Homo sapiens: one gene and its partners. The protein of the gene in region 1 interacts with the protein of each later gene in a biochemical or structural test. Each region holds a gene or a part of one and is shown in the gene's direction. Other genes may lie near its edges. The genes, in order: ELK1, MAPK1, MAPK3 and MAPK8.

Region 1 (7,430 bases):
TAAGAAGGCTTTCCTTGTTATGTCACAGGATTCCTGAGCCTATCAAATAGATTTTAATGTTTTGAGACTCCACGTACTTCCCCAAAATGAAGTATTTAAATTGTCAGTGCCTGCCCCCTTGCCTGGTCTTTTTGATGTACTGACCTGGTCTGTTAGTGTGATGAAAAATATGGTTGAGTCTTACTGCTTTATTGTAATTAGTAGGACTGTCTAGAAGTTTAATTTTTCTAAGAGATGAAGATTTGAGTCTATGTAGCTGGCTGTCCTTTAAAAATATTTGGTTACTTGGGATATACTTTGAACTAACTTTCTGGTCATTTTATGTGATCAAAAGTGTCAGTTCTTCCTGTTCTTAGTATATTTCTTTGTTTGGGAAGTGGAAGGGATGAAATCTCTATATTCTTTCCTGATGACACAGAAAGGAGTACACATCCACATCTCATGAATAGACATGTAATTATAGAAGAAACAGCCTAACGGCCGGGCGCGGTGGCTCACACCTGTAATCCCAGCACTTTGGGAGGCCGAGGTGGGTGGATCACGAGGTCAGGAGTTCAAGACCAGCCTGTCCAAGATAGTGAAACCCCGTCTCTACTAAAAATACAAAAAATTAGCCGGGAACGGTGGCAGGCGCCTGTAATCCCAGCTACTTAGGAGGCTGAGGCAGGAGAATCGCTTGAACTCGGAGGGTGGAGGTTGCAGTGAGCCGAGATCACGCCACTGCACTCCAGCCTGGGCGACACAGTGAGACTCCATCTCAAAAAAAAAAAAAAAAGCATAACCATATGACTATTCACACTGCCTTACATACTAAATCAGTAGTAATTTGCTTCTCACATAGCAAATAAAAATAAATCAGCAGTAATAAACATATCCCTTTTGTGTTACAGCTAGCATTTGGTGAACTCTGTATTTTTCTCCCTTTTAAAGTGTTGAACTCATAGGTTTTCATAAGGTAAGCTTACACCATTAACTAATTTTGTTCTCTTTTTTGATGTTAAAATTGTCCCTTAGGAGCTGATCAGGTTCATTCTTCTGTTCTTTAAGCATTACCCCCAGAATATTCTTGAAAGTATTCTTGCTCTCTGGCAACAACACCCATACTTCATTTATTTCCTGTCCCTAAACATACACTCAGCCAACCTCAGGTTCCTTTTAATGGAGTAGTCACTTATTCATTCAACATACGTTGGGTGCCTCCTCTGTGCCACACACTGTTCTGGTCCCTGGGGATAGAGCAGGAAACAAAAAAAAACAAAATCTGCCCTCATACAGCTGACATTCTAGTCAGGGGAGACAAACAATAAACAAATGAATGATGTAGTATGTCAGATGTTGACAGTGCTATGGAGAAAGCATATCATGGAGATCAGAAGCATTACCTGCAATGGAACAGTCATGATTTTAAGAAGAATGGCTGACTGGATGTGAAGTGTGAGAGAGAGGAGCCCAGGTTTTTGGCTGAGCAACTGGAGGGATGGAGTTGCCATTATCTGAGATGGAGAAGTTAGGGGAGGAGTAGATTTGGAGGGGAAGGTCAGGAATTTAGTCTGGAACCTGTTAAGTATGAGGCACTTATTAAACACTGAAGTGGATTTTTAGAAGATGTCATTAAAACTAGTCAAGTTCAGGAGAGAGTTCTGGGCTAGAAATAAAAATGTGGGAGATATTGGTATATACATGGGTTCATACTACTTTTTTTTCCAATTTAACATCCTATCTTATTGCTCTCTGCTTTTCCAACAGTATTTAGTTTCATTTACCCCTCAAACTGACTCCTACATTGACAGCACAATAAAATCCACATTCCTTATTATATTAAGACCCTGTGTGATCTAACCTCTTCCTATCTCTTGGACCTTGTCTTAGGCCACTTTCCCTCCCCACTCAATTTCTAACACTCTGACCTCACTGCTTCTCAAACAGCTCTTTGTTGCCTCTTGTCCTTTTTGTGGAAAAGGCCTTCCTACTGCTTAACCATTAGGCATTCTTCGATTCCTTCTCATTCTTCATTCTTGAGAAAGGCCTTCCTTGACCCTTTATATCAATTAGGATTCTTTTGGGCGAGATCTGATCCAAACTGGCTTAGAGAAAAGGAGTCAACTGACTGGTTCATGTAATTCAACCTCCTTCCTCTGCTGCAACCTTCCCTTGGCTCCCATCTCACTTAAGGTCAAAGCCAGGGTCCTTACCATGGCCTTGTAGGCTTCACACAGTTTGTCTCCCTCATTACCTCTCTGACCTCACCTCTTACATTCCCCCTTCACTTATTCTTCTCCAGCCAGAGTGGCCTCTTTGCTGCACCTCAAACATGCCAGGCACACTCCCACCTCAGTGCCTTTGTGTTTGCTGCCCCTTGTGTGTGGAACACATCCTCCATATAGCCACACTACTCAAAATTCACTGTCTTTAAGTCTTTACTCAAATGCTTCTCCGTGAAGCCATCCCTGAGCCCTCTTTAAAATTGCAGCCCCCCACTCCTGTACTCCTTATTGTCTCTCATTTTTAATTTTTGTTATTGTAGTTAGAACCATCTGACACATAGCTTTTATTCCATTGGTTTTTTGTTATGTCTTTCTTTACAAGAATTTGAAGTCCATCAGGCCGGGAGTTTTGTTTGTTGTGTTTGCTGCTATCTCCCAGTGCCTAAAATTGCCTGGCATACAGTAGGCATTTAATAATCTTTGAATCAGTGAAAACCAGATGGTGGCTTGGCATTTCCACATAGGAATGAGCCAGGTGGAAATCATCCAGGATATAAGTAGATCTTGAAGTGATAAGGAAGGGTCATCATAATCATGTGGGGCCCATTTTGCCCTTTCTTGTTTCTTTTCTCTAGGCTCAGCAACAGCCTCACCAAGGACTCCATGAATATCAAAGCCCATATCCACATGTTGCTAGAGGTGAGAGCAGCTCACCCCACTACCAGACTCTGTGTTTAGGGTGGTGACCTGAAGAAGGAAGAGAGCGAAAGAAGGGAAGGACCATCTTTCCCTCTAAACTGGAGTCAAGGGAGGGAGGTCAGAGCAAGCCTGGGGGCGTAACCCAGACCCAGTCTTTGTTCAATCTCTTCTGTCCTCTTTTTCAGGGGCTTAGAGAACTACAAGGCCTGCAGAATTTCCCAGAGAAGCCTCACCATTGACTTCTTCCCCCCATCCTCAGACATTAAAGAGCCTGAATGCCTTTGAGTCACATGGCCCTTCTTTTTCCCCATAAACCCTGCTAGTTGCCACGGGGGCCTGTTCCTAGGGCACAAAGTTACTGAGAGACCCAGAGATCCAGTCTCTCTGTGGAACCTCCAAAATGCCCCAGCAGTCCTGCCTCCAGCCTGTTGCCTGGCAGTATTTGCCAGTTGACCTTATGCACTGCCCTCTCTTCTGTCATCTTGGCAACCTGGGCCCCCCACCTCACCCTTTCTTCCATTCCTTTTCCTAGACGCCACCCTTTGAATTGCCATAGAGAATGGGCCAATTCATGGTGGAGGTTTGTTCATTCCCACAACAATCAAAGGGCCCTAAGGTTTACGCTTTCACACACCCAATCATTCCCCAGGTACCCCAAATTACACCCAAACCCTAACTCAGCCCTACCTTGTCTTAGCCCCTGCTTGTAAGTGTTCCAGCTTCCAATGGGCACAGACCTGGATCCCGCTCTCCCTAGTCGGGCCCCTATTCTAGGTTGAGTCCAGCCACCGCCAATCAATGCAGAGCCAGGTTCCTCCCCTTTTTAACTCTGGCCGCAGTTCAACCCTGCCCTCTGAAAGCATTTCGTTTCTGCCACTCAATGCTCTTTCGTGTGCCTGACAGCCATCCTGCCCTCCTACCTCCGCTGTGTTCTAAATTCGTCTTTACCCAGCTCTATGGTCTTGTCTAACCGTAGAGCTGCCCTGCCCGCCTACGCGGAGCCCAGTCCGACCCACTCCCGCCGGCTGCTACGCCCATTTCTATACAAGCCCTGCTTCCGCTGAGCAGCATGGCGTGCGACACCGCCCCCTTGGTGTTTTGGCAGGGGTCTAGAAGTCCCTCGTCCGCCAATCAGAGAAAAACAGGGCCACCCACCCCCGTCCTTGGGGGCTGTCTTCCATCAATCCCATGTAAGCCAATCAGTGTGAGGCAGACCCCCGCCCCCCCGACACAGGCCCCGAGCCTTTTCAGTTGCTCACAGTCCGTCAGTCCTTGAGCCAATCGGCGTGGAGCACCGTGAAGGCCGAACGCGCCTCCTCGGGACTCCAGGGGCCGTGAGCGTTCCATCATTTCCCCTTACGCCAATCACGGCACAGCTCTGTAGGGAAGGGCCCGTCCCCCAACCCCTCGAGGCCTTGCGGCCGATTAATAGCGCTTTGGCCAATCAGCGAGCGGCGGGACATTGGGCTCCTCCTCCTCGGGCCCACGTGAGCTGTAGGGAAACGCAGGGGCGGCTTCTAGGTGCTGCCGCCGCCACCGCCACCACCACCTCCACCGCCGCCTCGGAACCCAGGCCTGGGGGGCGGTGGGGCCGCGTATGGAGCCCCCGCCCCCCGGAGCTGCCAACATTGCCAACGCCACCGCCACGCTACACACAGGTGAGCTCTGGGCCTGGAGGGTGGAGGGCCCAGTCCGTGACCCCACGTATCCTTCCCGCCCCCGCGCAGAGGATGTGGCTTGGCCGGTGGCCTGCTGGTGTTCGACTCCCCGCCGCCACCACCACGGCTGGTGGACCTGCGTGTGGCATTGCTCAAGCCCTTCGTCCCTTATAGTGGATCTGACCGTGGCCTAACCTCCCCCTCCCGTTGTATAATGGATCGGTCTGCGTGCTTATGTTTTTCCCCACGCCAACTTAGGGTGGACTCGTCCATAGGCTTTCCCCCTACCCCTACCCCCACCCGCCCCCCACCCACCCCCACTTATAGGGAGCTAGCCTGTGACAGTGTTCAGCCCCCTTAATAGTAGGTGTATCTGAGTGTTTGGATTTCTCCTAGCCTCAACTTTCAGGAGACCCGTCCGTGGCCTTATTTATTCCACCCTTCCTGTACATCGTAGCGAATCAATCCGTGGCGCCGCACTCCTCCGCATCCCTCTTTAACAGTGAGTCTACCTGAGTTTGTATTCCTGCCTCCTCCAGTCCCCCAATGCATCAGTCCATGGCTTTTTTCAAAACCACCCCCCCCCCCCACCACCACCACCACCATTTTATAGTGGATCAGTCTTCATGTTTGGATTCACGTCCCTTTAGCTATCAGTCCATTGCCCTGTCTCCTCTTTTTCGTAGACTGTCGCTCTAGCGCTTGGGGTTCTCTCCTTTTTAATAGTGGGTTAGTTTAGTGCTTTACATCTCCCTATTTTCAGTAGCTCAGTCCATAGCCTTTTCCCTCTCTGCTTTGAATCAGTCTGTGTGATGGCTTTTCTCTCCTCTCACTGTGGTGCAGGAGTCTGTAAGGTTTTCTGCTCCCCTTCCCCTCAGACGATGAGCCTCATCACCCCTCCCTTTGCAGTGGATCTGTTCATTGGCCTTCCTCCCCCACACCCCTGTATGCTTGCACAGTCCCCCGCATACCCTCCCGTGAGTCCAGTGCTTTGTAATTGGGGGAAGATCGGCCGTGTACTTTCAATTTCCTTCTCTTTTTTTTTCCCTTCCCAGAAGAGAACGTGCTGATCCTCTTTTCCTTGTGATGGAGCACTGTACGGCCTTCCCTGTCCTCCACCTCTTAATAGTGGGTCAGCCTGGTCACACTCGTAACCACAAAGACGTTCTGCCTCACTACAATAAGTGAATACATTAGCGCCAGTGATGATAGTAATGCCAATAGGAGCTAGCGTTTATTGAGCACCTGCCGTATATCAGGCAGAGTGTTTCATATGAATGAGTTCCTTTAATCCTCACCACAACCCCATGAGATAGGTAGTGAGGGAATTGGGCCATAGGGAGGTTAAATTCCTTACTCAAAGGTGGCCCAGGAAGTACTCAGGACACAGGATAATTTTTGAGGCTCCCCTCTTAGATCTCATCCCACCCCACGTGAGGCCTCAGTCCTTAAAAACCAAATTAGTTCTCACCTCCAAGCTTTTGTTCTTGCTGTTCCCTCTGCCTGCAGAGCAGTCTTCATTCCTCACCTTCTCTCAGCACCCACCCACCCCCCAATCCCAGCAGCTGTGTGACCTTAGATGAGTGATTTAACCACTTCCTCTCTGTGCCTTTTTCTTCATTTGTGAAATGGGGGATCAGAACTAGAATCCCTTCCAGTGTAAATAAATATTAACTGTGAATTAATGGTAAAACAAGTAACCTTTCTAGCATTACCGCCTATACCTTCCCACCCCCTTACTGTGCTCCAACCACACTGGTTCCACCACACAGCTCCTCAAACATAGCAGGCATGGGCCAGCCTCAGGGCCTTTGCATTGGCTGTTCTTTGTGCCTTGAACACCACCCCCAGATCTCTGCATGGTTCCTTTCAGCACTCTGTTCAAATACCAACCCCCAAAGGATGTTTACCACACTGTGGTGTGTGGAATGCAGTATAAAAAGATACATGTATGAAAGATGTTTCTAAGAATGCCAGTTTATATATGAGTAAGGGTTTTCCTCCTTTTCAAAAGGATGTGTTCACAAGACTGAGGTACGTAATATGCTCTGTAAAGGCATAGGTATAAAAGCTGTTTCTAAGAGTGCTAGTTGTATATGTGAATAAGGACTGTGTTGTTGCATTGAAAGAATGTGTTCACAAAACTGTGGTGTGTAGCTGGGCACAGGGGTGTGCACTTATAGTCCCAGCTACTCGGGAGGCTGAGGTGGGAGGATAGCTTGAGCCCAGGAGTTCCAGGCCAGCCTGGGCAATATAGCGAGATCCCTTTTTCTGAAAAAAAAAAACCCAAAAAACAACCACTGTGGTGTGTGTAATACACTCTCTTAAAGGCACAGGCGTAAAAGATGTTTCTAAGAGTGATTTGATTTTGTTGTACCTGGGTAGTGTTATTTCATTAAAGGTTGATTGTCACACCATGGTACTTAGAATATACTATACAAAGGCACATGTATAAAAAAGAAGTTCCTAACAATGCTACTTGTAAAAACAAAAAAAGTCAACCCCTCCCTGACCATCTGAAGCTGCACACCCAGCAGGGCTCAAGCCAGGTCCCTGATTTGTCCCGTTGCCCTTTATCACTGTCTGACACACTGTGTGGGTTACTTGTTTGTTGTCTGTCTCTCCTCATTAGAATGTGAGTCCCATGAGGACTCAGTTTTTGTCTGCTCATTCACCGCTATGTCTCCAGCAACTGAAAATGTACCAGGTAAACAGCAGATGCTCAATAAGAATTTATCCCATGAATAAATGGGAAAAAGATAATTTGAGACACCAGTGTAGGGGTCACATGAGGAAGAAGAAGGGATATGAGAGCTAATTAGTTGGGACTGTTCCTGCAACCAACCTTTACTGAGCCCCTTGTGAGTAC
Region 2 (7,025 bases), on another chromosome or scaffold:
ACTACAAGCGTGTACCACCATGCCCGGCTAATTTTTGTATGTTTTTGTAGGGACAGGGTTTTGCCATGTTGGCCAGGCTGGTCTCAAACTCCTGGGCTCAACTGATCCACCCACCTCAGCCTCCCAAATTGCTAGGATTGCAGGCATGACCCACTGCGCCCAGCCAAGATCCCTTTACATTTGTTAAAAATTATCAAGGACCAGCTGGGCATGGTGGCTCACACTTATAATCCTAGCACTTTGGGAGGCCGAGGCGGGTGGATCAGTTGAGCCCAGGAGTTCGAGACCAGCCTGGCCAACATGGAGAAACCCTGTCTCTACTAAAAATACAAAAAATGCACTGGGCATGGTGGCACACACCTGTAATCCCAGCTACTTGGAGGCTGAGGCAGGAGAATCGCTTGAACCTGGGAGGTGGAGGTTGCAGTGAGCCGAGATCTTGCCACAGTACTCCAGCCTGGGTGACAGAGTGAGACTCTGTCTCAAAAAAAAAAAAAAAGTCAAGGACCCACACACCTTTTTTTAGTTACGTAGGTTATATCTATTGTTATTTACAATATGAAACTTTTTTTTTTTTAATTTTTGGAGAGAAGTCTGGCGCTTGTCCCCCAGGCTTGAGTGCAATGGCTCAATCTTGGCTCACTGCGACCTCTGCCTCCCGGGTTCAAATGATTCTCCGGCCTCGCCTCCCGTGTAGCTGAGACTACAAGTGTGTACCACCATGCCCGGCTAATTTTTGTATTTTTTAGTACAGATGGGGTTTCACCATGTTGGCCAGGCTGCTCTTGAACTTCTGACTTCAGGTGATCCACCCGCCTCGGCTTCCCAAAGTGCTGGGGTTACAGGCATGAGCCACCACACCCGGCCTACAATATGAAACTTTAAAATGTATTAATTAATTTTTAAATAGTAAACCCACTACATGTTAAGATAAATTACATGTTTTTCTTAAGAATAAGTTTATTTTCTACAATAAAAACGTTTTAGTGAGGCCAGGCATGATGGCTCTCACCTATAATCCCAACACTTTGGAAGGCCAATGCAGGAGGATCACCAGGAGTTTGGAACCAGCCCTGGTGACATAGTGAGACTCTGTACAAAAAAGAAATTTATTTATTTATTTATTTATTTTTTGAGACGGAGTCGTGCTCTGTCACCCAGGCTGGAGTGCAGTGGTGTGATCTCAGCTCACTGCAAGGTCCGCCTCCCAGGTTCACGCCATTCTCCTGCCTCAGCCTCCCGAGTAGCTGGGACTACAGGCGTCCGCCACCACGCCTGGCTAATTTTTTTGTATTTTTAGTAGAGACAGGGTTTTAACCATGTTAGCCAGGATGGGCTCAACCTCCTGACCTTGTGGTCCACCTGCCTCGGCCTTCCAAAGTGCTGGGATTACAGGTGTGAGCTGCTGTGCCCTGCCATCTGTACAAAAAATTTTAAAATCAGCTGGGCATGGTGGTGTGCACCTATAGTTCCAGCCACTCAAGAGGCTGAGATGGGAGATTTTCTTGAGCCCAGGAAATTGAGGCTGCGGTGTACCGTGATCACGCCACTGCACTCCAGCCTGGGCAACAGGGTGAGACCCTGTCTTTAAAAAAAGCAAAACGAAAAACAACCTTTTAGTGAGAAGAGTGGCATTGTTTTCATTTTTGCAAGTCTCTTTAATGTCTGGCTTAATAGAAGACAGTTGGATTCTCATCTGGTTCTGCATTCAGTCTGTCAAATATGTTGTTTTGGTTTAAGTTCATGAGGAAAACTCTTTTTTTTTTTTTTTTCAGGCTTTAATCAATTTAATAATCAATATAATATTACATGCATAGTTCTTCAAAAATGTCAAGGAAAACTCTTTCCCATGGATTTTAACTGCTTGAATTCAGAGCATAGAAAACAGAAGAAAACTTGAGTGCAATATTAATAAAGACCCTTTAAAAAAGATGTTATATAAAAAGAAAAATCGCAAGCCAGTGAAAAATACATGCAAAATTCTAAATAACATTTTAGCAAACAAAATCTATGCTTAAAAGCATAACACACAAAAAAGTGAGATTTTTCCCTAGTATGTAACAGTAATCAGACATTTTATCAAGACATTTACAAATAAGCCTAAAAATAGATGTCTGAGTGCTATTTATGAAATTCAAGATCTATTCCTCCCATCCAAGCACTAACCAGGCCAACCCTGCTTAGCTTCCGAGATCAGACAAGATCGGGCGTGTTCAGGGTGGTATGGCCAGAGGAAAACTCTTCACACAGGTATGTAGCTGGAAAAAGGAGGGAAATTTTAGTAGTCTTTTCAGCCACTTGTGGCTATTCTTTGATCCTACCCCCAGTTTAAACAAGTGGTGGTTTCTTAAAGGTTAATTGCAGTGTGGAATCTGAAATCATATCAGTGAATTCTTGATACTATTTCGTTAAAATCCATTAGTCTACCTTGCACTCATACTCATGCATGATTTTTTAGCGTATTTGGAAAATACTGGTTCACTGAGTTACACAGATATTCCAAGTGTCACATTTTCATGTACACATCATCACTCATCATATTGCATCTGGAAAAATCTTCTTTTCACTCGTGACTGAAAAGGATGAAAATGTCATAGTAGTATAATAAATGTACTGTGACCTCTCAGATCCTCTAGAGGGAACCCATAGGAGTCTCTGGAACACTCTTGTAGAACCGCCAGATAGAACTCCTAAATACCCTTTACCCCAGATTCAGGCTCACCGATTTTTTATCTTTTGCCCCATTTGCTTTATCATTCTTTGTGTGCATGTGTGTGGGCACTCCCACGCACTCTGAGTCATTTGAGAGTAAATTGTAGATACACCCCTTCACCTTGTTTCAGTATGTCTTTACTTCAAACCATGGTCCTGTTGTTCCCTGGGGACATGTGGCAGGGTTGTCACAGTGAGGGGTAGGGGTACTCCCTGCATCAAGAGGCCAGAGATGCTGCTAAAAATCCTACGATATACAGAACAGCCCTCCAAACAGAAACTTTCTCAGCCCAAAATGTTAGTCATACCGAGGTTGAAAAACCCTGCCTTAAGAGTATTCTCTAACATGACCACAGTACAGTTTTCAAAATCAAGAAACTTAATACTGATTCAGTATCTAATGCACAGTTTATATTCACATTTTAGATATTATCCCAATAACCTTTGAACTATACCCCACCCAAACCACCCCCCGACCTGGGCACAGGTTCACATGTTGTACTGTCATGAGTTTTGTTTGTTTGCTTGTTTGCTTGCTTGTTTTAAGACCAGGTTCGCAGGCCAGCCACAGTGGCTCACACCTGTAATCCCAGCACTCTGGGAGGCCAAGGTGGGTGAATCACATGGGGTCAGGAGTTCGAGATCAGCCTGGCCAACATGGCAAAACCCTGTCTCTGCTAAAAATACAAAAAATTTAGCTGGACATAGTGGCAGGCACCTGTGATCCCAGCTACTCAGGAGGCTGAGGCAGGAGAATCGCTTGAACCCAGGAGGTGGAGGTTGCATGAGCTGAGATCGTGCCATTGCACTCCAGCCTGGGTGACAAAGCAAGACTCCGTCTCAAAAAAAAAGGACGGGTTCTCATTCTGTCACCCAGGCTGGGGTACCGTGGCACCATCTCGGCTCACTGCAACCTCCGCCTCCTGGGCTCAAGGCCATCCTCCCACCTTAGCCTCCCAAGTATCTGAGACTACAGGCACGTGCTACTGCTCATGGCTGATTTACTTATTTATTTTTGTGCTTTTCATAGAGACAGGTTGTTGTGTTTCTTTAGTCTCCTTTAAGAGTGCAGATGAGCTATTTTGTAGAATGCCCCTCAGTTTTGGGTCATGCATTTTTAACATGAATACCAGAAAAGCACTTCATTGTATTAGAAGGCACTTCTGGAGCCAGGTATGGTGCCTCATGCCGTAATCCCAGCTCTTTGGGAGGCTGAGGCAGGAGGATCATTTGAGCCCAGGAGTTTGAAACCAGCCTGGGCAAATAGTGGGACCCCTTCTCTACAAAAAATTTAAAAATCAACCAGGTGTGGTGGTGTATGCCTGTGGCCCACCTACTGTGTGCCAGCTACTCAGTAGTGCCAGCTACTCAGGACCTGGCTGAGGTGAGAGGATCACCTGAGACAAGGAAGTTGAATTTGCAGTGAGGCATGATTACACCATTGCACTTCAGCCTGAGTGACAGAGTGATGACACCATCTCTTAATTTTAAAAGAGTCAGCTTATATTCCTTGGAGAAACATCTTTTTTGCACCATTGTTATGATTCAGACAGAATCCTTCCATGATTTTTTTTTTTTTTTTTTAATTTTTAGAGAAAGGGTCTCACTCTGTCACCCAGGCTGGAATGCATTGGCTCGGTCACAGCTCACTGCAGCCTCCAATCCCTGGGCTTAAGTGATCCTCCCACCTCAGCCTCCCGAGTAGCTGGGACTGCAGGTGTGAGCCACCATGTGTGGCAAAATAATAATAATAATGATAATAATAATAATAATTAGTTAATACCCAGTGTTGTTGAGGACATGAGGAAATGCATTTTCTTTCACATGCTGCTATTAGGAGTGTAACAGTGCAACTGCAGTCATAGTTCACTGCAGCCTCAAACTCCTGGCCTCAAGCAGTACTCCCACCTCAGCCTCCCAAAGTATCCTCCCATGACTTCTAACAGGATTCCTTTAAAAGAAAACATATTCCTGAAAAATGAATAGGAAAAGAAGATGAGAATTCTTTTATTTTATTTTATTTGTTATGTTATGTTATATGTTATGTTATGTTTTATGTTATGTTTATGTTATGTTATGTTATGTTATGTTATGTTATGTTATGTTATGTTATATGTTATGTTATGTTATTTTTGGAGATGGAGTCTCCCTGTGTTGCCCAGGCTGGAGTGCAGTGGTGCAATCTCGGCTCACTGCAACCTCTGCCTCCTAGGTTCAAGCAATTCTCCTGCCTCTGCCTCCCAAGTAGCTGGAACTATGGGTGCCCACCACCACGCCCGGCTAATTTTTGTAGTTTTAGTAGAGACAGGGTTTCACTATGTTGGCCAGGCTGATCTTGAACTTCTGACATCAGGTGATTCGCCCGTCTCGGCATCCCAAAGTGCTGGGATTACAGACGTGAGCCACCATGCCCAGCTGAGAATATTTTAGAAGAGATTGGTAAAATATGATGGAGCTAGCACACACTCCCCCAAACCCAGAAAAGGTTTTTAGACCTTTTTTCTTTTTCCAGCTCCAATTTATGACAATTCTAAATCTGTCTCTCAAATTGTTTCAAAAAAGGACGGATGTATACTTTGGAAATTCTAATTTAATAAGTTAATCAACTTTGTGGGTTTGTTGTTGTTTTGAGACAGAGTCTCGCTCTGTCACCCAGGCTGGAGTGCAGTGGCACGATCTTGGCTCACTGCAACCTCTGCCTCCTGGGTTCAAGCAATTCTCCTGCCTCAGCCTCCCACGTAGCTGGGATTACGGGCACCCACTACCATGCCCGGCTAATTTTTTTGTATTTTTAGTAGAGATGGGGTTTCACCATGTTGGCCAGGCTAGTCTCAAACTCCTGGCCTCAAGTGATCCGCCCGCCTCGGCCTCCCAAAGTGCTGGGATTACAGGCATTAGCCACTGTGCCCAGCCCAAGTTAATCAACTATGAAGAGAAAAATAAAATCACATAATCTTGGTTGTTCAGCCTCTCATAAGAAAGCCAAATTGTTTTTTGCTTTTCCATGTTGTTTACTTGTATTTCTGAATTGTAGAGTCAAAGGAGAAGTTCAGAGTCCCATCAGCAATGCACCTGTCATACAGGAAGATCTCATCATGTCCTGTAACACCAGATACCATTTTCAGTCTTTTCTCTCTTTCTCCTGCAGGGCTACACCAAGTCCATTGATATTTGGTCTGTAGGCTGCATTCTGGCAGAAATGCTTTCTAACAGGCCCATCTTTCCAGGGAAGCATTATCTTGACCAGCTGAACCACATTTTGGGTAAGGTTCCCGAGCCCTTCAGGAGCTAGATTTACTCAAGTTTGTACAGCTTACATCAAAGTCACTTCATTAAATTAAGAAGAGTTCTAATATACTCTTTAACCTGTGGTAGGTGTGAATTTTTAACCTTCTCTGATTTAAAATGTTAAGGACTTTTGTGTAAAAACATAAGAAAGGTAAACATCAGGAGTGGTGATAAGCAACGGCTCATATCAATTATCAGGGTTCATTCCGACTCAGAGTTGATGGTGTGTAGTCATTTACCTTGGTCCTGATAACTAATAGCTAATTTTTTTATCTGATAGGTATTCTTGGATCCCCATCACAAGAAGACCTGAATTGTATAATAAATTTAAAAGCTAGGAACTATTTGCTTTCTCTTCCACACAAAAATAAGGTGCCATGGAACAGGCTGTTCCCAAATGCTGACTCCAAAGGTAAATGTTATTTCGTTGATTAGTTTTTTCTTAGGCTTAGCTTCGCGTTTATTTGTTAAATTGTTAGGTCACTAGCCTGAAAAATGAGCCTATGGCTATTGGATAATGCTTTCTTTAGTGCTCACTCTGAATTGTTGTCTTCCCCCTTTTTTTTTTTGGAAACAGTGGCAGTGCAGTAAGGGAACCTGGTAATGACGGTCTAGTTCTCCACCTTTTGGTTTCTTTGCTAATTTTAATTTGCATTAAGGTCACTTTTTTTTTGTTTTTGTTTGAGACAGTGTCTCACTCTGTCGCCCAGGCTGGAGTGTAGTGGCCCGATCTCGGCTCACTGCAACCTCCTCCTCCCGGGTTCAAGCGATTCTTCTGCCTCAGCCTCCCAAGTAACTGGGACTACAGACGCGTACCACCACGCCTGGCTCATTTTTGTATTTTTAGTAGAGACAGGGTTTCACCATGCTGGCCAGGCTGGTCTCGAACTCCTGACCTTTTGATCTGCCCACCTTGGCCTCCCAAAACTGGGATTACAGGCGTGAGCCACAGCGTTCAGCCTAAGGTCACATTTTTAGGTCTCAGGAAGTCTAGGACCCTGCAAACAAATTACACCTTTTCATCT
Region 3 (6,874 bases), on another chromosome or scaffold:
CAGACAAACCCAAACTGAGGGACATTCTACAAAATAACTGACCTATAATCTTCAAAAGTCTACGGTCATGAAAGACCAGAATACTACTACTAATAATAAGAAGAATAAATAACTATTTCAGGCCAGGCATGGTGGCTCATGCCTGTAATCCCAGCACTTTGGGAGGCCAAGGTGGGCGGATCATTTGAGACCAGCCTGGGCAACACGGTGAAACCCCATCTCTACCAAAAATACTAAAATTAGCTGGGCATGGTGACACATGCTTGTGGTCCCAGCTACTCAGAAGGTTGAGGTGAGAGGATCATTTGAGCCTGAGAGGCAGAGGTTGCAGTGAGCCATGACCGCACCACTGCAGTCCAGCCTGGGCGACACAGCATGACACTGCCTCAAAAAAAAAAAAAAAGAAAGAAAGAAAGAAAAAAAGAAGTGCCAGACCTTGAAAATCACAAAAAGCTAATAACTGGTTTAAGATTTAATCTGGAGCCAGCCGAAGTGGCTCATGACTGTAATCCTAGCACTCCGAAAGGCCGAGGTGAGAGGATCACTTGAGCCTAGAAATTTGAGACCAGACTGGGCAACATTAGCTAGAACCCTTCTCTACAAACATTCTAAAAATTAGCCAAGCCAGGCACGGTGGCTCACACCTGTAATCCCAGCACTTTGGGAGGCCAAAGTGGGCAGATCACTTGAGGTCAGGAGTTTGAAACCTGCGTGGCCAACATGGTGAAACCCCATCTTTACTAAATATATAAAAATTAGCCAGGCGTGGTGACGTGTGCCGGTAATCCCAGCTACTTGTAAGGCTGAGGCAGGAGAATCGCTTGACCTGGGAAGTAGAGGTCAAGGTGAGCCGAGATTGTGCCATTGCATTCCAGCCTGGGCACAGAGGGAGACTCCATCTCAAAAAAAAAAAAAAAAATGCTGGGCGCAGTGGCTCACACCTGTAATCTCAGCACTTTGGGAGGCCGACACGGGCGGATCACGAGGTCGGGAGATAGAGACCATCCTGGCTAACACGGTGAAACCCCCTCTCTAATAAAAATACAAAAAATTAGCCAGGCATGGTGGCACACGCATGTAGTTCCACCTACTCAGGAGGCTGAGGCAGGAGACCCGGGAGGCAGAGGTTGCAGTGAACTGAGATTGCACCATTGCACTCCAGCCTGGGCAACAGAGCAAGACTCCGTTTCAAAAACAAAAAAAAAAAATTAGCTAGGCGTGGTTGTGTGTGCTAGGCATGGTGGCAGGATCTGTTGAGCCTAAGAGTTCGAGCCTGCAGTGACCTATGATCTTGCCACTACACTCCACTCCAGCCTGGGCAACAGAGCAAGACCCTGTGCTAGAAAAATAATTCTGCCGGGCACAGTGGCTCACGCCTGTACTCCTAGCACTTTGGGAGGCCGAGGCAGGTGGATCATGAGGTCAGGAGATGGAGACCATCCTGGCTAACACGGTGAAACCCCGTCTCTACTAAAAATACAAAAAATTAGCCAGGCATGGTGGCGGGTGTCTGCAGTCCCAGCTACTCAGGAGGCTGAGGCAGGAGAATGGCGTGAACCTGGGAGGCGGAGCTTGCAGTGAGCTGAGATCGCGCCACTGCACTCCAGCCTGGGTGACAGAGCGTAAGCTTCCACATCGTTTTCCCTCTGTCCCTTTTTTTGGGGGGGTGGGGGTGGGGGCAGGGTCTCTCACTCTGTCACCCAGGCTGGAGTGCAGTGGCACCATCAGAGCTCACTGCAACCTCAACATCCTGGGCTCAACTGATCCTCCTGCCTCAGCCTCCCAAGTAGCTGGGATTACGGACGCATGCCACCACACCCAGCTCATTTTTGTATTTTTGGTAGAGATGGGATCTCACTATGTTGCCCAGGCTGGTCTCCAGCTGCTGGGGTCAAGCAATCAGCCTGCCTCAGCCTCCCAAAGTGCTGGAATCACAGAGGTGAGCCACCACGACCAGCCAGCATCATTTTCCAGTTAAATGTTAATAGTATCTACTTCATATGGCTGCTGTGAGGATTACAGGAGGTAGTGTACATAAAAGTGCCTGGCAAGCCAGGTGCCGTAATCTCAGCACTCTGGGAGGCCAATGTGGGTGGATCACCTGAGGTCAAGAGTTTGAGACCAGCCTGGCCAACATGGTGAAACCTCGTCTCTACTAAAAATACAAAAATTAGCCGGGCGTGGTGGCTGGCGCCTGTAATCCTAGCTACTTGGGAGGCTGAGGTGGGAGAATGACTTGAACCCAGGAGGTAGGGGTTGCAGTGAGCTTGCACTCCTGCCTGGGTGATAGAGCAAGACTCCGTCTCAAAAAAACAAACAAACAAACAAACAAAAAAAAACCAAAAGTGCCTGGCACAGAAGAGATGGTAAGTCTACATTAGTTGAATATGCGTCTATGAACCAGAACAAATCCCAGTCCAGTCCTCCAAGGAAATGCCAACCTCAGTCACTAGAGGGGAATCTCAGTCACACTCTAACTGAGCTTCCAGCAGCAGGAGGTGGCAGCTTGCAGCTCTGATACACCAGCCTTTCCTATGCTGGGAAACTCACTCCCACTCAGCAAACCTGGCTCCATGCTGAACTCCATAGTGTTTTCTCTGAGTCACTATATTCTCCCGCAGTTGCAAAATGATCTGGCAAAAGTCCCTCTAGGGTTTTTACTGCTTACTGAGTAACATCCAAACTCCTTGCCAGAATCCAGAGCCTTCCTAATCTGGCCCCAACCTACCTCTCCAGGCTGAAACCTCATCATTTTTTTACTGCAGCCATGCTGGACAAGTTATGCTTCTGCCTTTATGCCTCAGCTCACCCCGATCCTTCTCCTTCATGCCTTTCTTCAGTCCCTACCTTCTGCAACCCTACTTTTTCTCTTCTTCTTTTTGTTTTTTGTTTTTGAGACGGAGTGTTGCTCTGTCGCCCAGGCTGGAGTGAAGTGGTGCAATCTCAGCTCACTGCAACCTCCTCCTCTCGGGTTCAAGCGATTCTCCTGCCTCAGTCTCCCAAGTAGCTTGGATTACAGGCACGTGCCACCATGCCCAGCTAATTTTTGTATTTTTAGTAGAGACGGGGTTTCACCATGTTGGTCAGGCTGGTCTCAAACTCAGGTGATCTGCCCACCTCGGCCTCCCAAAGTGCTGGGATTACAGGCGTGAGCCACCGTGCCCAGCCCCCCAATTTTTTTTTTTAATTAGCAGGGCGTGGTGGCGCGCACTCGTAGTCCCAGCTCTTTGGGAGGCTGAGGTGGGAGGATCACTTGACCCCAGGGAGGTTGAGGCTGCAGTGAGCAATTATTGCACCACTACACTCCAGCCTGGACGACAGAGAGAGACCCTGTCTCTATAATAAAATAAAAACAGTCTAGGACTCTGAGAGGCATGGAATTAGAAAGAGTCTCTGTGTCAGAAGACACCATTTTGAGTCTCAGCTGTCACTACTAGTGACCTTACCCAAGTTAGTAAACCTAACTCTCAGATTCTCCATCTGTAAAATTTGATCCATTTATTAGAACATTATTTTTAACCTAGGGTGATCCCGGGCCCAGGTTCTGGTGGGCTGCCGCATACATTGGCTGGGTGGCTCTGGTAGGTCACGCCCTGGCCGCTTCGCCATCGAGGGGAGGGTGAGGACAGTCTCCGAGGCGGCGCTGCCGAACCTCCCGGTGACCTGGAGGCCGCGGAGCCCGCAGGGACCCATGGCCCCCGAACCTGGGGCAAGAAGGGCGGGCGCGCGCGGGGCGGGTCACGTGACAGCTCCAGGCCCACGCGGGGCCGGGGCAAGGGCGGGGCCTGGCGCGCGCGGCCCTGCGGGTGACAGGCAGGCGGGAAGGGGCGGGGCCTCGGGCGGGGCCGCCGTGGGGAGGAGGGCGGTGGGAGGGGAGGAGTGGAGATGGCGGCGGCGGCGGCTCAGGGGGGCGGGGGCGGGGAGCCCCGTAGAACCGAGGGGGTCGGCCCGGGGGTCCCGGGGGAGGTGGAGATGGTGAAGGGGCAGCCGTTCGACGTGGGCCCGCGCTACACGCAGTTGCAGTACATCGGCGAGGGCGCGTACGGCATGGTCAGGTGAGGGGGCGTTCCGGGGGAGGGGGTGCCCTCAGGGGAGGGGGCTTCGCGGGAGAGGAGGAGGAGGCGCCGAGCGCTTTCCGGGACGTGGAGACGCGGAGCGTCCCGAGGAGGCAGGAGACTCGGGATGATCGGGAGCGTCCCAGGGAGGGGGCCCCTGAGTGCTTTCTGGGGGAGGGGGCGCTGCCTACGTCCTCAGGGGAGCAGGCTTGGAGGCTTTGAGTCCACCCTTCTGTAATGATGGGAGGGGCATCCGAGTGCATGTGGGGGCCCGCGGGGACCCTAGTGACACGGGGCGAGGCCCAGAGGATGAGTACTCTCGGGGAGGCGACATCCTTAGTGAAGAGGCAGTGGAGGGCCCGTTTTGGGGGAAAGGGTGTCTTGGATTCCCCCTGTGAGGCAGTGCCAGGGAGCCTGGGGGAGAAGAGCCGAGATCAGGGTGGGGCAGGGCTTTGGCCCCACCACCCCAGGGGCCCAGAGAGAGATGAGGCGGCCAGGAGTGCCACCTGCATGTTTTGGGAGGGGTCTGTGAGTGCCCCCGGCCCCACCGTGTGCTCTGGGCCTCTATCCCTCTGGGACAGCCCCGCTGCCCGGATCCCTCACCCTGGGACCCTCCCCTGCCCTGTCCATTCTCTCCTGCCCCTCCCCTGGCTGCCACCTTCCCAGTATTTGCCCCATGGTGTGTCCCCAGCATCTGCACCCCCGGACCTGTCTTGGGTTAAGGAGCCTTTCCTGGGAATGGGGGCGAAGGGTTCAGGGCCAGTAGAATGGAAGGGGATTGAGGAGAGGGGAAGTCAGTGAGCGGTCAGTCTCTTCCTCTGTTTGTAAAGTCACCGAAGGGCCGCCTGGCTGGTCCCCAGCTTTCTCTCTGGAGATCCCAGGCCTCCACAGCAGGAAGGAACCAGCATTGTTTATGATTTGACCAGAGCCAGCTCCTGCTCTCTCCCCTCCCTGCCAAGGCCTGGGTGGGGCCACCAGGCCCGGACTCCCCCTTTGTAAGGCCACAGCAGCAGCCTCTCTCCGGTCCCCTCAGCTCGGCCTATGACCACGTGCGCAAGACTCGCGTGGCCATCAAGAAGATCAGCCCCTTCGAACATCAGACCTACTGCCAGCGCACGCTCCGGGAGATCCAGATCCTGCTGCGCTTCCGCCATGAGAATGTCATCGGCATCCGAGACATTCTGCGGGCGTCCACCCTGGAAGCCATGAGAGATGTGTATCCTTCACCTTGGCCAGTCGGCTGGTCAGGCACGGCCTCGCAGCTGGGCTGGGGACCCGTTGCTTGGTTTCTGTTTCCATCTTACCCACCACCCTCCAAAACAAACCCAGTAAAATAAACTTTCCTGCAGAGGGGAAGCCACAGTGTAACAGGACTTGGAGACCTCTGATGAACCCAGGCCTGCAGCGGCCCAGGCAGTATGGCCTCGAGCAAGTGGGTTCTCTGCTCTGTGCCCCAGGGGGAAGGGCTAGGCAGGATGGTCTCTATGGGAGTGGTGTCTTCTGACGTCGGCAGTTCTGAGACATGACCTGGCCTCTGCCCACAGTCACTTCTTGCTAAGGAATGGATGATTCTTTCCTCTCTTTCCTCCTTGCCCAGACCGGAAGGGAGACAGGGAGAAAGAAAACTGTCAGCTGGGCGTGGTGGCTCACGCCTGTAATCCCAGCACTTTGGGAGGCTGAGGTGGGAGATTACCTGAGGTCAGTAGTTGGAGACCAGCCTGGCCAACATGGTTAAACCCCATCTCTACTAAAAATACAAAAAAATTAGCGGGGCATGGTGGTGCAAGCCTGTAATCCCAGCTACTTGGGAGGCAGAGGTAGGAGAATCGCTTGAACCCAGGAGCTGGAGGTTGCAGTGAGCCAAGATCGTGCCACTGCACTCCAGCCTGGGTGACAGAGCGAGACTCTGTCTCAAAACTAAACAAAAACAAAAAACTGCCTTTCTTGAGGGCCTGCTGTGTGTCAGGTACTATACATGCCCAATGCTTTTTTTTTTCTATTACACCTCCCAACTACCCTATGAGATGGGCTTTTCAGCTTCATTTCAAAGATGAGGGGTGGAGTGCAATGGCTCACATCTGTAGTCCCAACACTTTGGGAGGCTAAGACCAGAGGATCACTGGAGGCCAGGAGTTCAAGACCAGCCTGGGCAGCATAGTGAGACCCCACCTCTACAAAAAATTTAAAAATTATCCAGGTTTGGTGGTACACGACTATAGTCCCAGCTACTTGGGAGGCTGAGGCAGGAGGATGGCTTGAGCTTAGGAGTTCGAGGCTGCAGTGAGCTATGATTGTGCTACTGCACTCTAGCCTGGGGGACAGAGCGTGACCCTGTCAAAAAAAAAAAAAAAAAAAAAGATGAGGAAGCTAAGGCTCAGAAAACCTAAAATCAAGTGTTTCTGTTGCTGTCTCCTCCTCTCCTCCCCCAGATGGGAACTTGTCCTTCTTCTTAGGACTTCTCACTCAGAGCCACACCCTAATCACCTGTGGACTTGCACCTTGCCCAGGGAGGGACAGCCTAGCCTTGGCTGTCCTCCCCCAATACTGCTTTCCTAGTTTGCTGTCCACTTCCTGTCTGGCTCTCCTTAGCAACTTATGACACCTGTCACTTCTTCCCTGCCCCACCCACCCACTCTCAGTCCCAGCCCTCCACCCAAGAGTGGGGATTTGTACTGAGGTGTCTGCAACCCCCACCACAAACTGTGGACAGGAAATCTCCGTGCTCACCCCCAGCTCGCTGTGTGATCTGAAGCAAGTCACTGCGTCTCGCTGGGCCTCCCCAGCCCTAAAACAGCAGGGCTGGTCCACATATTCTCTGA
Region 4 (7,025 bases), on another chromosome or scaffold:
GTGCACACCTGTAATCCCAGCTATTCTGGAGGTGAGGCATGAGAATCGCTTGAACCCGGGAGGTGGAGGTTACAGTGAGCCGAGATTGCACCACTGCATTCCAGCCTGGGCGACAAAGCAAGACTCTGTCTCAAAAAATAAAATAGAATAAAAAATGAACTGACATATGGTTCCTCTTTAGTTAAGAATTATGTAGATCACCTTCTTGCCTTCCCACTCCCACCCTAGGAAACGGAGTCAAATGTAATGCTTAATGATTATAACTACATTAGCCAGCAAGGTTAAACATAAGTACTTCCTCCTTTTAATGACACCTCACACTCATTTTATTTATCTTATTTATTTATTTATTTATTTATTTATTTATTTATTTATTTTTGAGATGGAGTCTCACTCTGTTGCCCAGGCTGGAGTACAGTCATGCCATCTTGGCTCACTGCAGCCTCCACCTCCTGGCTTCAAGCCATTCTCCTGCTTCAGCCTACGAGTAGCTGGGACTATAGGCATGTGCCACCATGCCTGGCTAATTTTTGTATTTTTAGTAGAGACAGGGTCTCATTATGTTGGCCAGGCTGGTCTTGAACTCCTGACCTTAGGTGATCCACCTGCCTCAGCCTCCCAAAGTGCTGGGATTACAGGAGTTTGAGCCACAACGCCTGGCCTCCCACCCATTTTAACAACTTTGCTTTATGTACCTTTTATTGCAGGCTACTCAGAGCATTTTGGAAAGCAGTGTAATCAATATATTTTTAACTGCTTAATAGACTAAGCAGTTAGTTTACAGCTAGAGTTGTGCATGAATCAGACTTATGTTCCTAGTCTTCACTGGCCCAGATAATATCTTCTCTCATGCTTGCAGCTTTCAAAATACTTTTGTTTAAAAATGAGCTTTTCTGAAAGTTACCAAATAAGTTGTAAGCTGGATATTTAAAGTTTAACATTCTCTATAAAATCTGTAGAGAAGATTTATTCTAATAGATTTTTGTCAAAAACGGAAACCTTAGAAAAAATTTTTCTCTGAGGCACTAATTTATAAATATTAAATTTTTTTTCTAAAATCTTATCCTTGAAAGCTGAACCATGACATAAATATGAAAATATTCATTCATTTTAATATGACATTTTAGGGAAACTTTAGTTCCACAGTATTTCCAAAAGTAATTTCCAGTTTAGCTCTTAAGACTCTTCAGTGAACTGGCAGCCTTTTAATAAGAATGTACTGTATTAGAAAGTACAGGCTTTAATTTTCTAAGTCCTTTAACATGAGTAAAGGGCACGTGTCTTTCTGACATCTATTTGTGCCGTTTTCCACTTGTCATTTTAAAGAATTGGGACCTTCAGATGTCACAACTAAATGCAAGTTTCTAAGGCTTTTCCTTCTAAATTGCTCATTCTTCCCTCTTTTCCTGTTACACTGCAAGCACTTACTCTCTCCTTTTTGTGTGATGTTCAAACCCAAAGGCATAAAATGCCACGATGTGTTGTCAGTTTCCCTTAGTAAGTGGAGATTCCAAATTGTCTGTTTCTGTGTCTAGCAGATTCTTGTCAACATTGATTGGGATTCCCATTTACAGTTGGCAAGGGTCATCAGTAAGTCTTCCAGGAGACTCTTCATACTCAATTCGTGGGAACTGACTTACTGTATCTAGCCAAAACTAACTTCTTAAGCCAAAAGCAGTTTGGTTTTATGGGTTTAAAAAACTTTAGGTAGGAAACATGAAATACATTTCTCTTACTAAGTTTTCCTTGATTAGTTGTTCATTCTCTGTGCACTTGTTCCTTTTGGGATAGTAGGGTAAATGTAGCATGATGTTGCCAAGAAAACAAATGGACTTTTAATTCAGAACAAGCATAGCACTTCTCAGTTAAATGTATTTGGGAAATCCAGTTTAAAAATTCCAAAGAGCTTTAGATTAACTTTTTTATCATAATTATTCATAGAGATTATTTCTGTTAGATATTTTAATATGCTGAATTATTTTCTCATGCTTTTTTCTTAGAGAGTATAATGCACAGTTGAACTTCTAAATAGTATAGTATAACAATTTTATTTTTATAATTTTACTACCTCATGTACATTTTTATTTACAAAGTTTGTGTTTGGTTCTATTTCATATTTTATAAACAAGTTCTCAGGGACAAACATGCAGGGTTTTTCTATTTATGCAATTTCTGTGCATAGCTCTCACTTTGAAATTAGATATGTAGTTAAAATGCCACACTTTACATTTTCTTTTGTGAACCAGACTTTCAAAAAATAATTTGTGTTTTAAATTATTCCGTTAGCTAAAGTTACAATCACTTTTTTTCTTTTCGTGACGTTTTGCAGTTTTTATATAATGCAGTCATATTATGCTTCTTTGATTTTAATGACCTTTTGCTTTGCTTTTCCTTCTTTTGTGCTGCAAACATATAGTGGATTTATGGTCTGTGGGGTGCATTATGGGAGAAATGGTTTGCCACAAAATCCTCTTTCCAGGAAGGGACTGTATCCTTGTGCTGCTGCAGCAGTTAATTAGTTAGGCGATGAACTTCTTTATGTTCTCTAATGAAAATGAATATGCTACATTTACACAGATGGGTTTTTAAACAGGCATAAAGTTTGTGGCTATTATAGTTCAAAAATTGTTGAGATAAGAAGCTGAAATATTTGTAGGCTGCATCTGGCAGTAGGACATACAGTCTCTGCTGGTAGTCAGAGCACATTCACTGTCACTCATTTTTATTTTATACTGCTTTTTATAATTTTAAAGTATACATGGTGTGTGTGATTTTATTTCTTTCTTTTTTTTTTTATTTTAACCAAAATCTTTATGTTAATGTCATTGCATTTTGTTTTCAGTTGACATTTGGTCAGTTGGGTGCATCATGGGAGAAATGATCAAAGGTGGTGTTTTGTTCCCAGGTACAGATCGTATCCTTATCTTTGGCCTAAAATGTAGTTTCTAAAGGTCAAAATGTATGATAGCACTTCAGTTTGGTCAGGTATAATGTATTTTGTCTCTCCCTAATATATTGTTAAATTACTCTTAAAATACCACCTACTATTTGACATAGACTTTTCCTTCCGTTATTTATTGTTTCATATGTTAATTCTGAACCCTGCTCAATTGTAATTATGCACAATTACTTGCTGGCTTTGAGTTGATTTAACCTAAATCAAAAATCATGGCTTGCATTAAAAATTTATAATAATTATACACTTAAGTCTAGAAATACGTACAACTTAATATGAATTTTGGAGCTGTCTGTTGCTTCTGGCCATCCTTTTGTTTTGTCCCCTACCTCCTTTTTGTTAATGTTCTGTGTGGTTTGTGTCTTTTGATTGTTGTCTCATTACTCACATAACATACTGACCCTTTCATCTGAGAATTTCAGCAGTAGTAGTTTTGTATGGTAACGATAGCTTTGGATTCATACTTTTTGTTCATCCCACTACTTTTAATATTTATATTAACAGTGATTTGTTATGTGTTTACCAGCTAGTAACACTTAGAATTGTTTCAGGAGGAAGAATGGGAAAAGGCATATTCACAAGGTTACAATAAGTGAGTTTTAGGCCTTGGCCTTCAGGGTCCTGGAGTGTAAAGACTAGAGGAAAGGAGACCAAGAAATCCTAACCTTACAACTTAGCAAAAAACTGAATCTTTTTTATAAGGGTCAGAGCTTTAGAAAATTTTTTTAAACCTAAGCTAAACAAAGAATGGCAAAAGAAAATGCCACTTTTATCGAAGCCTTTATTTTTATTACAACTGATTATTTTCTGTTAGTGTAGAAAACTCAGTAAAACAGGATGTGTTCTAGAAATATTGTCTAGGAGATATAATCATGTTTTCTGATAAATTGACAGAAAAGGAAAAATTTTGTATATTATTATAGCATTGTGTGCAGTTTGCAGTTAGAGCCACTATGGATAGTAATTGTCATTATTCTTAGTTGCTTATCATTTTATTTAGAATTTGTGAGTTTAAGCTTCCATTTTAAGGTAAAATCAGTTAGTTTGAACACACAATAAATAAGGTTAATAAAGCTTATTTATTGATCATTTCTGTCCACCTACAATCATTGCCTTTTGCAGGGTGCCTGTGAGATATAAAATTTATAACTGCCACATCCTTTCTTAGGAATTTTTAAATTTCTATTTTCTTGTAATATGAATATGACTAATGTATTGAACATTAGTTATGGAGTATTTTTCTTAGCTACTTGATATTAGATATTGATCAGTGGAATAAAGTTATTGAACAGCTTGGAACACCATGTCCTGAATTCATGAAGAAACTGCAACCAACAGTAAGGACTTACGTTGAAAACAGACCTAAATATGCTGGATATAGCTTTGAGAAACTCTTCCCTGATGTCCTTTTCCCAGCTGACTCAGAACACAACAAACTTAAAGGTACTTTTTACAAATATGTACATTTAATCCCATTTGGGGTGTGTAGTGTGTGTGTATGGGTTTGTGTGTTTATATGTATTCATATTCTTATGGGACATGAACCCAAGGTTTTCTCTGGATGGTGGGGAAAAAAATGAGGTTTTTGTTTTTTTTTTCTTTAATCTTATATATTTTAATCATATGTATAAGATAATTTTACAGTAATATTTTTAAAACATATGCTTTTTAAAAAATCTCAAATTGCTGAAAGTTATTAATAATTTGAGAATCTTTACAAATATATGTACATTAACACCATTATGTTTGCAGCCAGTCAGGCAAGGGATTTGTTATCCAAAATGCTGGTAATAGATGCATCTAAAAGGATCTCTGTAGATGAAGCTCTCCAACACCCGTACATCAATGTCTGGTATGATCCTTCTGAAGCAGAAGCTGTAAGTTATTTTCTTAATGTTTACAGAACATATTGCATTCTTAGAGTTAGAATGACAGTTAGGTTTGGAGGAGACCTTTTAATTTTAAATAAAAATGTAGATACATGATGATGATGTTTTTCTGTTTCTTCATGAAGACTACGTCAAATAAACTAATGAACATATTCGAGCCCCTCCTACACAAAATAAAGTTACCTCCCACTGTTTTTTGCAATCTTGCCTGGATACCTAACCAGAGAACTAGGATGTTGAATGCTCTGGGGGAACATCCTAACTCAGGTATAAAACAAATTACTGTATCCAAAGGAAAACAGAATTCTGTGATCTGTGATATAAATAAAATGTGGCAATTTCAAGAGCTAGAAGAAAAGAAAAAAGACAGTTAAACATTTTATTTCCTGCAATGAAGGAGTCTTCCTAAACTATTATGTCTGTATAAGTAAGTTGATGATTGATCAGTCTTGATCTAATGATATATTTTTATAAGTCATCTGTGTGGCTAATATTTCAAATAACTACAGAGTTAAAATACTCCCAGCATACTGACTTGGTTATTATTGCCTTGTGTTTTTCAGCCACCACCAAAGATCCCTGACAAGCAGTTAGATGAAAGGGAACACACAATAGAAGAGTGGAAAGGTACATTCGTCAGATTCTTAGAGGGAAAACTGTGAAGGAGCTTCTGGTTTTTATATGGTGATTTATTATCATGTTAGAGAAATTTGTGACTTTAATATGCATAACCGAAATGTGGTAATATTAATATTTTTACATAAGTAGAAAGTAAGTCTGCTTCCTTCCTTAACTTAATCTTAAGTTCCCAAGTTTCCCACCCCAGACACAGACACATTAGTGCTCTGTCTCATATTTTTTTCCATGGTTTGTGAATACACAAATGTGTTTAGTGTCTCCCACCTCTCCTCTTCCACCCTTTTAAAATCACGTATGGTTGTGTACGGTGTATGCTATATGTACTTGCTTTGTTTATTTATTATATATTTTTTTGAGTTGGAGTCTCGCTCTGTCACCCAGGCTGGAGTGCAGTGGTGTGATCTCGGCTCACTGCAAGCTCTGCCTCCCGGGTTCACGCCATTCTCCTGCCTCAGCCTCCTGAGTAGCTGGGACTACAGGCGCCTGCCATCACACCCGGCTAATTTTTTTGTATTTTTAGTAGAGACAGGGTTTCACCATGTTAGCCAGGATGGTCTCGATCTCCTGACCTCGTGATCCACCCGCCTCGGCCTCCCAAAGTGCTGGGATTATAGGCGTGAGTGCTTTGTTGATATAATCAGATATCTGGAAGGTTATTCTCTTTTAGTTCACGTATCTGCCTCTCTTGCTTTAATAACTGGTTAGTGTTCTGCTGTATGAATATGTCACACTTTATATATCCATCTCCCTCTTGGTGACCATTTAAATTGTGTCCAGTCTGTTGCTGTTAGAAACAACTCTGCAATATTCATGTTCACATATGAGAACATGCCTGGAAGAAAAATCCTGGAAGGAGATGTTCTGAGCCAAAGATATTTTTCAGTTATTTCCAAATTACTCTCCAAAGAAATGGTAGTAGTGTACACTTCCGTCCATGTTATATAGGAGTCTCTCTTTGCCCTCACCCTTGCCTACAGAATGGGTTAATTTTTAATATTTGTAAATCTAATGTAGTTTTATTCTATTTTATGAATGTGGCTGAAATTAATCATGCTTTGATAGTCATGGAAGTTTTCAAATATTTCTTCAAAAGGTGCCCTGGGACATGTGGGTCAGGTAATTTTTAGGTCCCGTTTACTTCCATTTGTGTTATTGTCCTTCAGTGTTTTGACCACTTTTGTAACTGCGTGACTTTGAGTAAATCACTCCCCCTTCATCTCACCCTCCTACACTGCCCCCTGCATTTTACCTCATCTTAAAATAGAGGCAGAAGACCTGTTATTAAGAGTTGTCTCTAAATCCTGGGAAAGGAAAGGGGACTGGGGAGGTATAAACATGAATAAGTGACCCATCTATAAATGTATTTTGCTAAGCATGAATTTGATTCTTTCTTAGAAATTGAAGAGATTTAGAGATTGGTTTTCTCTGAACTTTGGGAAACCCATGGTTAGCAGAGCCCGTGATAAAGTTAGAAGAATGACAAAATGATAAAATTGGATAGAGTCTGCTGCATTTGAATATGTAATGTGCATTTGAATATG

Evidence for each region.
Region 2: of the proteins of ELK1 (region 1) and MAPK1, one has a biochemical effect on the other in vitro, tested with the Homo sapiens proteins (16 studies listed by BioGRID and IntAct, with this or other methods).
Region 3: of the proteins of ELK1 (region 1) and MAPK3, one has a biochemical effect on the other in vitro, tested with the Homo sapiens proteins (6 studies listed by BioGRID and IntAct, with this or other methods).
Region 4: of the proteins of ELK1 (region 1) and MAPK8, one has a biochemical effect on the other in vitro, tested with the Homo sapiens proteins (3 studies listed by BioGRID).

Annotation. Positions count from the first base shown.
Region 1 is NC_000023.11:47,647,554-47,654,983, reverse strand, and holds the start of ELK1 (ETS domain-containing protein Elk-1), read left to right. Parts: upstream 1-4,420; 5' UTR 4,421-4,561; intron 4,562-4,957; 5' UTR 4,958-5,063; intron 5,064-7,430. Other genes in the region: protein UXT, read left to right, coding at 2,840-2,903, 3,089-3,142. UniProt on the Homo sapiens protein: Transcription factor that binds to purine-rich DNA sequences. Forms a ternary complex with SRF and the ETS and SRF motifs of the serum response element (SRE) on the promoter region of immediate early genes such as FOS and IER2.
Region 2 is NC_000022.11:21,787,644-21,794,668, reverse strand, and holds part of MAPK1 (mitogen-activated protein kinase 1), read left to right. Parts: intron 1-5,860; coding exon 5,861-5,975; intron 5,976-6,280; coding exon 6,281-6,412; intron 6,413-7,025. UniProt on the Homo sapiens protein: Serine/threonine kinase which acts as an essential component of the MAP kinase signal transduction pathway. MAPK1/ERK2 and MAPK3/ERK1 are the 2 MAPKs which play an important role in the MAPK/ERK cascade.
Region 3 is NC_000016.10:30,120,221-30,127,094, reverse strand, and holds the start of MAPK3 (mitogen-activated protein kinase 3), read left to right. Parts: upstream 1-3,874; 5' UTR 3,875-3,885; coding exon 3,886-4,055; intron 4,056-5,088; coding exon 5,089-5,271; intron 5,272-6,874.
Region 4 is NC_000010.11:48,421,672-48,428,696, forward strand, and holds part of MAPK8 (mitogen-activated protein kinase 8), read left to right. Parts: intron 1-2,416; coding exon 2,417-2,488; intron 2,489-2,842; coding exon of another isoform or gene 2,843-2,914; intron 2,915-4,216; coding exon 4,217-4,399; intron 4,400-4,708; coding exon 4,709-4,833; intron 4,834-5,408; coding exon 5,409-5,472; intron 5,473-7,025. UniProt on the Homo sapiens protein: Serine/threonine-protein kinase involved in various processes such as cell proliferation, differentiation, migration, transformation and programmed cell death.